2 linked regions of the Homo sapiens genome follow. The protein of the gene in region 1 interacts with the protein of each later gene in a biochemical or structural test. Each region holds a gene or a part of one and is shown in the gene's direction. Other genes may lie near its edges.

Region 1 (3,921 bases):
ATTTAAAACAATATTGTGTGTAATTGTGAAGCTGGTGTCTGTTGTGTGATCAGTGGTAAAGCACGTGAGTTGCTAGGCACAGGTGTTGAGATTTCGTGTTTGATCAGACTTCTCTTTTAAGTTTAAGCCTGGTTGAACACAATCTCTGTCAGGTACCGTGGAAATCCTTAATGTGAACCATTTCATGAAACCCTCACTACTGTCCAGTGGTGGCGATGCTATTTATTAACCACATTTTTCAAATGAGAGAATGGGAGTTTATAGGCCTAAGATCAGATGCCATCCCCCAGACGCCTGCCTTGATGCCAGTTTCCTGTTGCCACCCCCACCCCCTCCTGTTCCAGTCTAGGCCAGGTGCCCTTCATCCGTGTTTCTGTGGCCCCTTGTGTTTATTGCAGTCACAATACTGAATCTCGTTTCTTGTCTGTGTCCCGTACCATGCTGGACATAAACTTCTTGAGAGGAAGGACTGTCTTATTTATCTTTGAGTTCCCTGTGTCAGACTCAATGCCTGGCACATGGTTGTTTGAGAAGAGTTCATGGAACGCATTTAAGAAATACATTAGGATCTATATTAAGATTCTAATTAAGACCGAGTTGAGTGTTTATCGAGTTAAAAAAAAAACCCTTGAGGAAGAAAAGTTTTATATTTTATAAATTTCTAAGGCAAATTATATGGTTTACGCAGGCCTTTTACTAGATTATTTAGTTCTTTTTTTTTTTTTTTTTTTTGAGATGGAGTTTTGCTCTTGTTGCCCAGGCTGGAGTGCAATGGCATGATCTTGGCTCATGGCAACCTCCAACCCCCGGGTTCAAGCGATTCTCCTGCCTCAGCTTCCCCAGTAGTTGGGATTACATGCATGAGACACCATGCCTGGCTAATTTTCTTTATTTGGTAGAGACGGGTTTCTCCCGTGTTGGTCAGGCTGGTCTTGAACTCCCAGCCTCAGGTGATCTGCCTGCCTTGGCCTCCCAAAGTGCTGGGATTACAGGTGTGATGTGAGCCACCGTGCCCAGCCTCATGTTTATTTTAATAAAGGAACATTGTCTTGCCTCAAATCAACATTTAATGGACAAAAAAAGAGAAGGTCACCAGTATGCAGGTAGCACCCTGGAAACCTAAATGTTACATCTGTATGGACATTTATCTAGAAGAATAAAAGGAGCAGTGGTAACTGACAATCTTCAACAGGTATTTTTAAATCTTATTTAGTGTTTGAATGATCCCAGTGGACTGGAATGTGGTTAATATGAAGCAATTTAACTGATAATGCAGACACACAGCAGGAAACTATGTGGCAGTTTAATATTGCTTGTGGTGACATCCTAGAAATTGCTTCCAGGCACCAAGTGCAGGAAGTGGGCTGTAAGTAATCGAAGGAAGTTTTCTAAGTGAGTTTGAAGAAACGTGACATTTATGGACTCAGAGAAAAGCATACTCTAAGACTTGAGGCATAGGAACAGGGCAGGGCAACTAATTTGGCCTTGTGGTGGTGATTATTCTACATTAGCCTGTATACCTGTCTTCTGTCCCTGTCAAACTGTGACCTCTGTGAGGTTAGTGACCAAGAAATTTATCCATTTATTCATCCATTTACCTACTGTAGAACTAAGAAGATTAAGCACATATTAAACAATAAATGTTAGCCATTATTATCATAATTAGTGGCAATACTGTGCCTGGCAGTGTGCTAAGTACTGGGGACACAAAGATGAACAAATATTTTTCTTTAAGGCTTTCTAAAGTAGTGGACACAAATGTAAAACAAAAACAATCCCTTCCAGACTCCCTCCCCACCAAAACAAAACAAAACAACAAAAAAAACAAAACACAAGTATAATACAGTATAAGTTAATTGCAATGGTGGAGATGCCGCTGGTGACGAATAGGTGAGTAAGTGAAGGAGAGACTGTCTTCTGGGGAGGAGGGAGGGTCAGGAAAGGAAGCCTTCACCAAGGGGATCATGTTTCAGCTGAGAGATAGGTAGGGGTGGTTAGCAGAGGGAGTAGAGGCAGTAGTGATGGTGGTGGTATCAGCAGAGGGAGCAGTACATATGAGGACGTGGCATATTAGGGAAATAAAAATATTACCATTTATTCCTGGCACTTAAATGCCAGGAATTGTGTTAGACATTGGGAATTACGATGGTGAATAATACAGATTCACTCCTCACGGTGCATACAGTCTTGTGGACCTGACATTAAAAAAACCAGGTGAATTCACATAAAGCTATGTGGATGTTCTATAAAGGAAGCACATGAGTTGCCTCAGAGAAAATGATGGGAGCGACTGTCCTATTTTAGATAGAGTGGCGAGGGAAGGCCTCACTGTGGAGATGACATTTGAGCTGAGACTTAAAGGATGAGGAGGTATTAGTCATCTAAAGAGACTAGGCAAGACTTTTTATTCCAGGCCTTGAGGCAAGAAAACCCTAGGCATATTTCAGGAACGGACAGAAGGCCAGTGGGTTTGAGTAGTGACTGATGGCAGAGAGGCTTGTGGTGAGGTCAGAGGGAGAGACCCTGGACAGGGCCTTGTAGGTTGTGGTAATCTGAAAACTGTTTAAGATACGAAATTTTATAGTATGTGAATCTTATAAGATTACAACATAAGATTCACATACTATAATATTTACTTTTTTTTTTTTTTTGAGACAGTTTCACTCTGTCCCCCAGGCTGGAGTGCAGTGGTGTGATCTTGGCTCACTGCTACCTCCGCCTCCTGGGTTCAGGTGATTCTTATGCCTCAGCCTCCCAAGTAGCTGGGACTGCAGGTGCCCGCCACCATGCCTGACTAGTTTTTGTATTTTTAGTTTCACCATGTTGGCCAGGCTAGTCTCAAACTCCTGATGATCCGACTGCCTTGGCCTCCCAAAGTGCTGGGATTACAGGCATGAGCCACTGTGCCCAGCCCTAAAATTTACTTTTTTAAGTGGTTTTAAGTATATTCACAAGGGTGATTGATTACCACTAATTCCAGAACTTTTTCATCACCCCAGAAAGAAACCCCATGCCTGTTAGACACTCCTCATTCCCCCAAACCCTTCAGTCCTAGGCAATCACTAATCTACTTGCTATAGATTTGCCTTTTATGGGCATTTCATATATTAATAAATAGAATCATATATAACCCGTCCTGCGTGGCTTCTTTCACTTAATGATTTCAAGATTTATCCATGTTGGAGCATGCATGAGTGTTTCATTACTTTTTACTGCTGAATAATATTCCATTGTATGGACATACCACATTTTACTCATCCATTTGTCAGTTGTTAGGTATTTGGGTTGTTTCCCCTTTTCATCATTATGAATGATGTTGCTATGAACATTTTGTGTGGACATATGTTTTTATTTCGCTTGGGTATATACTTAGGAGTGGAATTGCTGGATCTTTTGGTAACTCTATGTAACATTTTGAGAAACTGTTAAAATTGTTTCCTAAAGCAGCTGTACCACTTTGTGTAAAGTGGTATTTTATTGTGGTTTTGATTTGGCCCAAATGAGTTACATAGAAAAGATCAGTGTAGACGGAGATAGGTTTCTAGGAAGAGGTTGGAACTTGAACTGAAAGAAAGGGGAGATTTGGAGAATGGAGGGGGATTACCAAAGGAAGACAAGTGGAAGTTATATGACTTGAAAGTGAGGATAAACCGATCTCATTTCAAGAATAGAGGAGCAGTGTTGGCTTATGATAGCTCTGCTCCAGTTTGTTTAAAGGATCCCATTGCCAAAATACACAAAAAGTTTGCTTTTTCTTGAGGCCTGTTGTATAGCACAACTAACGTATCTCTCTGCTTTGTGATGAGACCAAGAATTGGAATGTGACTTCCTTCCAGGCCTTCTTCCTCTAATGCCTATTCCCCTCTTCCCTTTCTCCGCCACAGTGCTGTCCTCCCTGTCCCCAAAGGAGAATGTAGAGAG
Region 2 (3,921 bases), on another chromosome or scaffold:
TGGTTCTAAAAAGGAGTAGCTTTTGAAATATGGAAAGGAGGAGACATATTTGCTAAATAAATGCCCATGATAAGCCAAGAACAATGATCTTTTATATCTCTGTGATTGCATTTAATCTTTAACAAGCTTATGAAGTTAGTATTTTTATTTTATTTAGACGAGGCATAGTCAAGGATTAGATAATATATATAACAAGTAGTATAAGATTTGAATTTGAGTCTGTCTTCCCACCACACTATATTGGCTCCCAAAGCATCAAACATTATTTTTTGTTTTTGAGATGGGGTCTCACTCTGTTACCCAGGCTAGAGTGCAGTGGCATGATCATGGCTCACTGTAGCTTCAGTCAACCTCCTGGGCTCATGTGATCCTCCCTTCTCAGCTTCCTAAGTAGCTAGGACTATAGACATGTGCCACCATGCCCTACTAAAATTTTAATTTTTTTCGTAGAGACAGGGTCTTACTCTGCCCAGGGTGATCTTGAACTCCTGACTTCATGTGATCCTCCCACCCCAGCCTCCCAAAGTGGTGGGATTAGAGGTGCCATGCCAGCCAAAAGTTTTCTCAAAGGATAGGATATTTAAAGTGATGGTTTTCCAGGTGGTATAGATGCAGTGTAAAATAAAATTTAAAAATTAAGTTATGGTTTCCAACAGAGATAAAGGAAATGGACTTACAATTTGCTAAAACAAAGGAAATTGTCATTTAATGGATGTAAAATAAGTGTTAGATGCTCCTGGAGAGCCCAGTACTGTGGTAATCCTGAGAGGTAAACAGAAAATGATGTAGGATGGGGCTGGGCGCGGTGGCTCACACCTGTAATCCCAGCACTTTGGGAGGCCAAAGCAGGCAGATCACCTGAGGTCAGGAGTTCAAGACTAACCTGGCCAACATAGTAAAATCTCATCTCTACTAAAAATACAAAAATTAGCCAGGTGTAATGGTGGGCGCCTGTAATCTCAGCTACTCAGGAGGCTGAGGCAGGAGAATTATTTGAAACTGGGAGGAGGGGTTTGCAGTGAGCTGAGATGGCACCACTGCACTCCAGCCTGGGTGAAAAAAAAGATATAGTATAGTCCTTTGCCCTTAGTGGATGTAATCTAGTTCCTTTTTTTTTTTTTTTTTTTTGAGATGTAGTTTGCTCTTGTCGCCCAGGCTGGAGTGCAATGGCGCCATCTCGGCTCACTGCAGCCTCCGCCTGCCAAGTAGCTGGGATTACAGGTGTGCCACCATGCCCGGCTAATTTTTGTATTTTTAGTAGAGATGGGGTTTCACCAGGCTGATCTCGAACTCCTGATCTCAGGTGATCCACCTGCCTCGGCCTCCCAGAATGCTGGGATTACAGGCGAAAGCCACCTCAACCAGCCTCGTTACTTACATAAATCAGTAGTGCAAGACAATCTGTTATAAGTGACATGATCAAAATTGATACTTTAGGAGTCAAGGTTTATCTTTTTTTCTTTTTTATTATTTTTATTTTTGCCCCCCCCCTTTTCTAGCTGAAAATTCTATACTTTCCCATTTGAAAGTTCTTAGAAAAACAGTTCAACTAGTTGCTTCCTAATTCCTTCCATTTATTTTGTAGTATAGAATTCTAATAATGGGCCAGGTGCCATGGCTCATGCCTGTAATCCCAACACTTTGGGAGGCCAAGATGGGTGGATCACTTGAGTCCAGGAGTTCGAGACCACATGGGCAACGTGGTGAAACCCCATCTCTACAAAAAATAGAAAAATTAGCTAGGTGTGGTGGCACGCACCTGTAGTCCCAGCTACTTGGGAGGCTGAGGCGGGAGGATCATTTGAGCCCAGGGGGTCAAGGCTGCAGTGAGCCAAGATTGTGCTACTGTGCTCCTAGGCAACAGAGTTGAGACCCTGTCTGAGAAAAGAAGCTAATATTTGTATCTCTAAGAATTGATAACTACCTTCCTTTTTTTAAAGAATGTCTTACTCGATCAGGTAAATCTTGAATTTTTCTTTCTTTTTTTTTTTAAGAGATAGGGTTTTGACATATTGTCCTGGCTGGTCTCAAACTGCTGGGCTCCAGTGATCCTCCTGCCTTGGCTTCCCATAGTGCTGGGATTACAGGAGTGAGCCACTGCGCCCAGTCTTGGATTTTTCTTGCTATCATTTTCTTAAGATGTCTTCCTGATCTAGAGTTGGCAGGCAGCATTCTGAAGCAAGTTAATTTTTTCCTTCCATGATGAAGCAGATAAAAACTGTAGTGTACACACTCGCGCTATCCCACCCCCCTTTTATTACTCTGTACATGCCTTTGAGTCAGTAAGCTAATTCAGTTAGTAAATTCATGGGGTTTTTTTGTTTGTTTTTTGAGATAGGGTCTCGCTCTGCCACCCAGGCTGCAGTGCAGTGGTGCGATTTCAGCTCCCTGCAACCTCCGTCTCGGGCTCGTGATTCCTCCCACCTCATCTCCCAAGTAGCTGGGACTAAAGGCATGCACCACCACACCTGGCTAATTTTTGTATTTTTTTGTAGAGATGACCTTTCGCCATGTTGCCCAGGCTGGTCTCAAACTCCTGAGTTCAAGCAATTTCAGGCCTGATCGTTTGCCTCAGCCTCCCAAAGTGCTGGGATTACAGGATGAGCCACCATGCCTGGCCAAATTCACGATTCTTTAGGATCCTTGATTTGTTATTTTTCTTTTTGTTCCTACTTTGTGGCTATTTTGGTACCTGCACTTAAATGTGAGAGTGCAGAGGGAAGGGGAAAAATAGATACAATTTATTCTTAGGGTAGTTGAGAAAAGTAATTAATTGGTGAAGAATAAAAATTTTTTAGATTTGAAATAGCACTAATAAATTAAACTTACAAATAGTTCTCAAATCAGCTTTTAGCATTACAGCCTTAAGTTCTTACTTTTAAAGAGACATTTTCTTCCTAATGTCTAACCATTGGTACCATTTTGCTGCCTACACTGTTTCATATAGAGAGTGTCGTTTAACTGTTAAAATTTACTGAAACAATTTTTCCCCAGGGTCTTATTTTTGTGGTAGATAGCAACGATCGTGAAAGAATTCAGGAAGTAGCAGATGAGCTGCAGAAAATGGTAAGAAATATACTTTAAATTCATCATTTTCAAGGTGTGCTTTTCTGGATTAAACTGGTGGTGGTTTAGTACATTTTGACTATGATTAGATTACACAAATGGATTGGGGGGGCTAGAAATAAACTTAAGAAACTATATTATCCACAGGTTCTTAATAATGTACTTCAAAATCTCTTATAGAGCGTTTTAAAAAACACATGGAAGAGTAGCTACTTCAGTAAGTTGGGAGGAAGGCAGAGCAGTGTTGTTTTTTTTTTTTTTAGAATGCCTCATGGGTAATCTTGATGCCTATCTCTGGCTGAGGATATCTGATTTAGCTCAGTCCCTTACTTTACAGATATCAAATCTATAGTGCTGTAGTGGTTTTGACCCTAGGAATCTTGGTTCAGATGTTTTGTTCCCAAGGTCATCGGTTCCATTTTCTCTATGCTGTGCCAATAATTACTTCAGAAATGTTTTTTAATAGTAACCATTTAAGGATAAGGAATTCCTTCTGAAAGTAGAGACAAATGTTTGGTTCACAGTGGCATTTTGCAGCCTTCCCATAGATTGGATTAATGTTTTCATGTGTTCATGTTGTTAAATGTACTAAATGGAGGAAGACTGCTGAGAATCCTTGTCATGATTTTAAACTTGTAGCCATAAAATATTTACTGAAATGAAATCTTAATTCTTGTTCATTCCTCCTAAGATTAGAGGGCAGTTTGTAAAACCATTGTGCCAGTATATGTGTAACTAAGTCATTGTTGGATTTTTGCCTGAGTCAAATGTCACCAGCTTTCCCTCTTCAAAAAAAAAAAAAAAAAAAAAAGCTTGGTTGAGACATACTTCACACACTATAAATGTCATCCTTTT

What was found.
Region 2: the proteins of DENND1A (region 1) and ARF4 form a complex in vitro, tested with the Homo sapiens proteins (one study listed by BioGRID).

Annotation. Positions count from the first base shown.
Region 1 is NC_000009.12:123,923,379-123,927,299, reverse strand, and holds part of DENND1A (DENN domain-containing protein 1A), read left to right. Parts: intron 1-3,921. UniProt on the Homo sapiens protein: Guanine nucleotide exchange factor (GEF) regulating clathrin-mediated endocytosis through RAB35 activation. Promotes the exchange of GDP to GTP, converting inactive GDP-bound RAB35 into its active GTP-bound form.
Region 2 is NC_000003.12:57,576,461-57,580,381, reverse strand, and holds part of ARF4 (ADP-ribosylation factor 4), read left to right. Parts: intron 1-2,994; coding exon 2,995-3,066; intron 3,067-3,921.